Homo sapiens: one gene and its partner. The protein of the gene in region 1 purifies or fractionates together with the protein of each later gene. This does not show direct contact. Each region holds a gene or a part of one and is shown on either strand. Other genes may lie near its edges.

Region 1 (3,652 bases):
CACTGCAGCCTCTGCCTCCCGGGTTCAAGTGATTCTCCTGCTTCAGCCTCTTGAGTAGCTGGGATTACAGGCGCCCGCCACCACGCCCAGCTGATTTTTTGTATTTTTAGTAGAGACAGGGTTTCACCACTTTGGCCAGGCTGGTCTCCACCTCCTGACCTGAGGTGATCCGTCCACCTCGGCCTCCCAAAGTGTTGGGATTACAGGTGTGAGCCACCGCACACGGCCTGAGCCATTAGTTTCTGAGTAAAATATGATTATGCCCATTTTACAACCAAGAAAAACAGAAGAACCTAGAACTTAAGCTACCTGTCCCAGCAGTACCCCACAGCAGTTAAGAAAGCATACTCAAGTTTGAATGTCTGGCCTTGAATCCTGACTTGGTTACTTGCTTAGCTGTTTTACATTGGGCAATTTCACTAACCTTGGTACCTCAGTTGCCTCACCTATAAAATGAAGATAATCACGGTACTGACTTCACCTGATACATAGCAACCTGCAAGTTTCAGCTCTTATTTACAGGGTGAAACTGGGATTAAAACCTTCTGACTCTGAGTCTAGCATTTTATTGTATTGTGTTAACTTATATTTCCCCAATGCCAGCCAGCTCTCTGCCTCTTGACCTGGCGGCTCTCTAAACTCTGAGACCCAAGCCACAGAAGAGGATTCAGAGTTGCTTTTCTAAGGGCTGGGGAGGGAACGGCCTTGCTCTGCTCTGAAGGTTCCCTAGGCACTCGACAAGTTGGGGAAGTTTGCAGGCTGACAACCCATCTATTGCTAAGACCCTGGTCTATCCTATACTATTATAGTTCCTCCCTCAGCTTCTTCCTTCCCCTGCTTCCCCAATGCCCCTAACTAAACTCCCAGACAACTGTACTATTTTCTAAGATGCTACCACTTGTGACCCTGCATTATGTTCATGTGGGCATGCGTCCTCTGCATGCCTCGTGGAGAAAAACTCTGCATGGCCTCTTATAGTAGCCTGGCTCAAAGCCACTTGGTGTGCAGGCAAGATTACTTTCCAAGGCCTCGGTTCCCAGCCACCTAAAGGCATCGACATCAAACAATTGGTAAAGAACAATTAGTGTCTTATCAAGTTGAGTGTAAGCTAGGCTCCCGGCTCTCCCAAACTTCTAACTATTCTGTTATATGAGTCTTGAGAGTTTGTCCTGGATTAGTGTCTGTGAGTGTGTCCTCACTTGCTATTTGTCAGAAGAATCAGTGTGTGCCTTAGACAAAGCAACAGAATTTCTGACTGACAGTGACTCAGGCTTGCCTGCTGTCTAAGTGGCAGTAATCTTGAACTTTGTTTTAGGCACATTCAGGACAGGCATTCTCGCAATGGAAAACAAGGGGATAAAAGCAAACTGTTGATGCCTTCACCCCCCCAACCTTTATGTGAGAAGTATTTCAAAGTTAAAAACATAGGCACCAACCCTTCAACCAAATAATTTACAGGATTGTAAATGTGGTTTTAAAAAGCCTGGGAGGCTGGTTTGAGTGCTATCACTAACTCATTGTGGATAAAAGTTTTGTCCCTTTTCTGGGCTTCAGTTTCCTTCCTTGTGAAACAGGCAGCCAGGTCACACATCTAAGACCTCTTTCTATTCCTCCGAAGCTTCTGCTGTCTTAATGCCTCTGGGTAGGACGTGTTTGGTCTGTGCACAGAATGGAAGGAGACAATGCATTTAAGGCTATCAAACAAAATGGGGTAAGACCAAGAACAGCATTTCAAGACATTTCTCTTTTCGATACTGGATTATTTTACTGGCCAAATAGTGAAACGGACTCCCTTTGTCTCTTCGCCTATCCACAGTCCTAGGCACCCTACTTTCAAGCCCACCTTCTCCCTAACTCCTGATTCTCTTTCCTCTTAATTCTTGTGCAAAGCCCTTGCTTATGAGTTGACTGGTCATTTCCTCCAGTGATCTTGAATAGCATTTAAATCTTCTTCCAGTTCTCAAACTTTTCAAATGTAAGTTCCATTGGGGCAAGGGGTGGTGTGTTTTGCTTTGCTTTTTTTCTTTCCCTTCAAATACCACAGTAGGGACTCAGCATTAGGTTTAGTTGAGACTTCAAGGCAGATTCACACTTTTTGGCCTGTTCAAAATCATTCTGAGTTTTAGGAGGCAGGGCCAAGGGTGACTGTAAAGGACTTTTCTATTTAATGAGAGAGCTGAACCAGGTTATCTCTACGATTCCTTCCAGCTTTAACATTACTGGGTGGTATTTGCATGCTGTAAACCCAAGGCCCCAGGACAGATCAAGACCCCTAAATTTTGGAATCCAGAATAAGCAAAGTTTAACCTGGAGTAATTTTGGTATCTGTTCTCTATTTTAAGAAGCAAAAATGATTACCTATTTACTACTTGAAAAATCCACACATTGCAAGTCAGCTTGAATGTCATTTTCATAAGCAGAAACAACACATATTTTCTTCACTGCTCTGTCTCTGAGCCCTGAACACCGTAGAGGTTCAAATATTTTAAAGACTCCAAACAACTGAAAGGGACCAATCCAATCCAGTGTACGGCCTAAAGCAAAAGATTTCATTTTTCTAGGTCCCAGTTTTAGTTCACAAAGGGAGGATGAAAACACCAGTGTTTCTGTCAACTTGGTGTGCCTGACAACACAGAAAACAAGGTGTGTTCTATGATGAAACAAGTTTGGGAAACTTGAGCAAGAACAATGTGAATCTTGAAGGGGGTGAGGGTAGAAGAGTACAGAACATGGTGTGAACTTATATAAGGCAGTGAATTCCTCCCTATGTGGAGCACTTGCTGACATTAACAGTTTGCACAGTGACCCTATGTACCTAATGTCATAGGTACATACCCACTATCTTACAATAAAGGAATGCTCCTCACAGGGTTCAAACAATTTGCTCCATGTTTTGTGCAGTCAGTCCTGGGATGAGCCAGAGGGTCTAACCCCAAAGTCCATGGTACTAACCACTATGCTATGCTGCCATGGGGTCACTTTGGAATTTTGACAAATTCTTCAGGTGAGGAAAGTCCACATAGTATTTATATGTTGAGAGAGTAAGCAAGAGCTTCAAGCTGAGGTTGAAGGTTCGAGACTGGCGTCAATGAACTGAGGACACAAGGAATAAACATTCGGCAAGGCAAATTCCTACATCCCAAGGCAATCCTGTAGTAGGAAGTCCAGACCATTCATTGGCAGTAAAGGAGAAGACTAAGAGAAGTCTGAGAATAGAAAGACTTCAAAGTAAGTGATGCGCTCCTAGAATATAGGTAAGATAAACGAATCCCCTAGGGAGTCTTTTTTTTTTTTTTTTGAGACAGGGTCTTGCTCAGTCGCCCAGGTTATAGTGCCATTGCATGATAATGGCTCACTGTAGCCTCAACCTCCCAGGCTCAACTGATCCTCCTGCCTCTGCCTCTCAAGTAGCTGGGACTATAAGCCTGTGCCATCAGGTCCGGCTATTTTTTTTTCTATTTTTTGTGGAGACCAGGGTCTCACTTTGTTGCCCAGGCTGTTCCCAAACTCCTGGGCTCAAGCCATCCTCCCACCTCAGCCTCCCAAAGTGCTGGGATTACAGTCGTGAGCCATTGTGCCCTGCTGGAAGTCTTTTCAAAACAAAAACACTCACCCTGGGGAGAGGGTAGGCTTCTCAGAATGGATGGGGCAC
Region 2 (3,652 bases), on another chromosome or scaffold:
CTGCCTCCCGGGTTCAAGCGATTCTCCTGCCTCAGCCTCCTGAGTAGCTGACACTACAGGCCTGCGCCACCATGTCCGGCTAATTTTTGTATTTTTAGTAGAGACGGGGTTTTGCCATGTTGGCCAGGCTGGTCTCGAACTCCTGACCTCAGGTGATCCACCCGCCTCAGCCTCCCAAAGTGCTGGTATTACAGGCGTGAGCCATCGCGCCTAGCCTAGTATTGCTTTATTTAACAGTAATATGCTTGCTGTACCCGGCATGAAGAATTCCTCTAAAGACCATTAATTAAAATAAGTTTTCATAATTCCTAAAGAATAATCTATATTATACATATTGGCACACTAAATTTTGTAATTCATGTTTAACAAATATCTGCATTTTATAATTCTGAAACTATTTGAACTTTACAACTTAGCTGATTAGTAGATTTTGTTTTTTAAGTATTTTATATTTCTAAATTTTTCTGCAGTACATTTTAGTGCATTTTAAAATTCTGACATCATATCCCCAAAAGTATAAAGAAAATTAAATCTACATTCAGTAGCGACTGGGTGGTGGTGGTATGTATGTCACATAACTATTGATTTAAAACAATAACCACTTAAGTGTAATTTAATTTGCAAATGAGATGTTTATTTACTATGTAAAAGACAGTACTGCCAAATGAGACTGGCTAAAATAATTTACAGTGGGGCCATATGTACTAGCAGGTTACTAACAGATTAATAAGGATATTTTAACAATATTTAGAACACTAAAATTCCACTACTCAAAATAATTTGTACTTCTTATAGTAGTTTGAGAACCTACATTTTATGCTTAATTTAGTATTTACTTCTAGTCTTTTTTTTTTTGAGTCGGGGTCTTGCTTTATTGCCCAGGCTGGAGTGCTGTGGTGTCATCATGGCTCACTGCAGACTTCCCAGGCTCAAGAGATCCTCCTGCCCAACCACCTGGTCTCAAGTGATCCTCCCACCTCAGCCTCCCAAGTAGCTGGGGTTACAGGCACACACCACCACACCTGGCTAATTTTTAAAACTTTTAATTTTTAGTAGAGATAAGGTCTCACTATGTTGCCCAGGCTGGTGTCCAACTCCTGAGCTCAAGTGATCCTCCTGCTTTGGCCTCCCAAAGTGCTGGGATTATAAGTGCGAGCCACAGTGCCAGGCCGACTTATAGCCTCTTGGAAAACATTTGGTTAATGAAAGTGAAGGTCCACCAGAGGGAGTGTGGGGTCTATATATTTGTTGTATTTGTTTTTTACCCTTGGTCTGGAATCAAAACATTTAAAAAATAAGAATAAGATTTTATTTTAGTTCTCTAAAACAATCAGTCAAAAGATATTGAAAATTGTGATTGTAGTTGTTTGGAGTTGCTGTCATTTTTGTTATCAAAATCAAGGCTTAATCAAGGCTGTTTTTCTTCTTAGAAAAAGGTGGCGAGGTGCAGTGACTCACGCCTGTAATGCCAGCACTTTGGGAGGCCAAGGCACGTGGATTGCTTGAGCCCAGGAATTTGAGACCAGCCTGGGAAACATGGTGAAACCTCCTCTCTACAAAAGTACAAAAGTTAGCCAGGTGTGGTGGAGTACACCTGTAGTCCCAGCTACTTGGGAGGCTGAGGTGGGAGGATCACTTGAGCCTGGGAGGTTGAGGCTGCAGTGAGCGGTGATTAAGCCATTGTACTCCAGCCTGGACAACAGAGCGAGACCCTGCCTTAAAAAAAAAAAAAAAGATACAATTACTGGAAAAATGAAAATGATGTATTTTCAAAGTGAAATAATGGGTTTTTAAGTAAACAGTCACACATCTGTGAAAGCTAAGGAATGTCCAAATTCTTTATTTTATTATTATTATTTTTTGAGACAGGGTCTTGCTCTGTTGCTCAGGCTGGAGTGCAGCGGTACAGTCTCCGCTCACTGCAACCTCCATTGGTTCAAGCGATTCTTCCTGCCTCAGCCTCCTGAGTAGCTGGGATTACAGGTACACACCACCACGCCCAGCTAATTTTTGTATTTTTGGTAGAGACGAGGTTTTGCCATGTTGGCCAGGGCCAGGCTGGTCTTAAACTCCTGATCTTAGGTGATCCGCCTGCCTCGACCTCCCAAAGTGCTGGGATTACAGGTGTGAGCCACCATGCCCAGCCTAGGAATGTCCAAATTCTGATAATGTTTTATAAGATTAAAAATATAGGCCAGGCCAGGAGGTCAGGCGTTGGAGACCAGCCTGGCCAACATGGCAAAACCCCATCTCTACTAAAAAAAAAAAAAAAAAAAAAAAAAATTAGCCAGTCATGGCAGTGCATGCCCTTAGTCCCAACTACTCAAGAGGCTGAGGCAAGCAAATTACTTGAACCTGGGAGGTGGAGGTTGGAATGAGCTGAGATTGCACCACTACACTCCAGCCTGGGCAACACAGTGAAACTCCATCTCAATAAAAAAAAAAGTATATATATATACCAGGCATGATGTCTCACACCTGTAATGTCAACACCTCAACACTTTGGGAAGCCAAGGCAGGAGGGTTGCTTGAGCCCAGGAGTTAGAGACCAGCCTGGGCAACATAGTAAGACCCCATTTCTACAAAAAATATAAAGTTCTCCAGGTGTGGTAGCTTGTATCTGTGATCCCAGCACTTTGGAAGGGTGAAGCAAGAGAATCACTTGAGCCCAGGAGTTCAGTGCTGCAGTGAGCCACCATACTCCAGCCTGGGGGACAGAGCAAGACCCAGTCTCAAATACACACACACACACACACACACACACACACACACACACACACACACACACACACACATATACGTATATATATACACACACACTTTTTTTTTTAAAGAAAGAGCTTGGGATATATATTTCTATACTTTTTTTAAGAAAAAGATTGGAAGAGACATATATATACACACAGACACATACATACATTTTAAAGAGATTGACGTATGTTTTTAACCTTTTTTTAAAAAAGAAATGGGATATATATATATATACTTTTTTTTCTTTTTTTTTTTTTTTAAAAGAGATTGTTTCTTGCTCTGTCACCGAGGCTGAAGTGTGGTGGCTAACTGCAGCCTCGACACAAACTCCTGGGCTCAAGCAATCCTCTTGTCTCAGCCTCCCAAAGTGCTGGGATCCCAGGCCCAAGCCACCATGCCTGGCTTAAAAATGTAGTACATTTGAATTGTATCCTTTTGAAATTGTTCGTTTTTTGGAAAGAAGAATAAGAGATGAAGAAAAATCAGACTGGAAGAGGGTTGTTTTTTCCCTTTTGTAGTTGCAAATCCTAAGTGGGCAGTGGTAAATTTCTAGAATCATTTGTAGCATTCTGTTTTAAACTTGGCAATTTAAAGATGTTATAAATGAGGAGTCCCCAGAAAATGGTCATTTCATTATCAAAAGCAGGGTTGCAAATTTCAGATTGATCTTTTCAAAAGTTAGATTTGTACTTGTTCTCAGTGTTCCTATCTCTGGAAACTAAAGAACCTCCTCCATTGTTAGCTGAAAATTGCACAGTGAATTTGAAAGTCAAGATGTCCCAGTCATGGACATAATGCTGCGATAGGTTACTTTTTGGAATGGAGAAAACATCTTAGAGATTGAGTCTGCATCAGAATATATTCTGAATGAGCATGGAATGTTCTTTACCCATGTTAGATA

What was found.
Region 2: the proteins of STK35 (region 1) and FKBP5 purify together in Homo sapiens (affinity purification with mass spectrometry; 2 studies listed by BioGRID and IntAct, with this or other methods). This does not show direct contact.

The regions. Positions count from the first base shown.
Region 1 is NC_000020.11:2,104,803-2,108,454, reverse strand, and holds part of STK35 (serine/threonine-protein kinase 35), read right to left. Parts: intron 1-3,652.
Region 2 is NC_000006.12:35,682,264-35,685,915, reverse strand, and holds part of FKBP5 (peptidyl-prolyl cis-trans isomerase FKBP5), read left to right. Parts: intron 1-3,652. UniProt on the Homo sapiens protein: Immunophilin protein with PPIase and co-chaperone activities. Component of unligated steroid receptors heterocomplexes through interaction with heat-shock protein 90 (HSP90).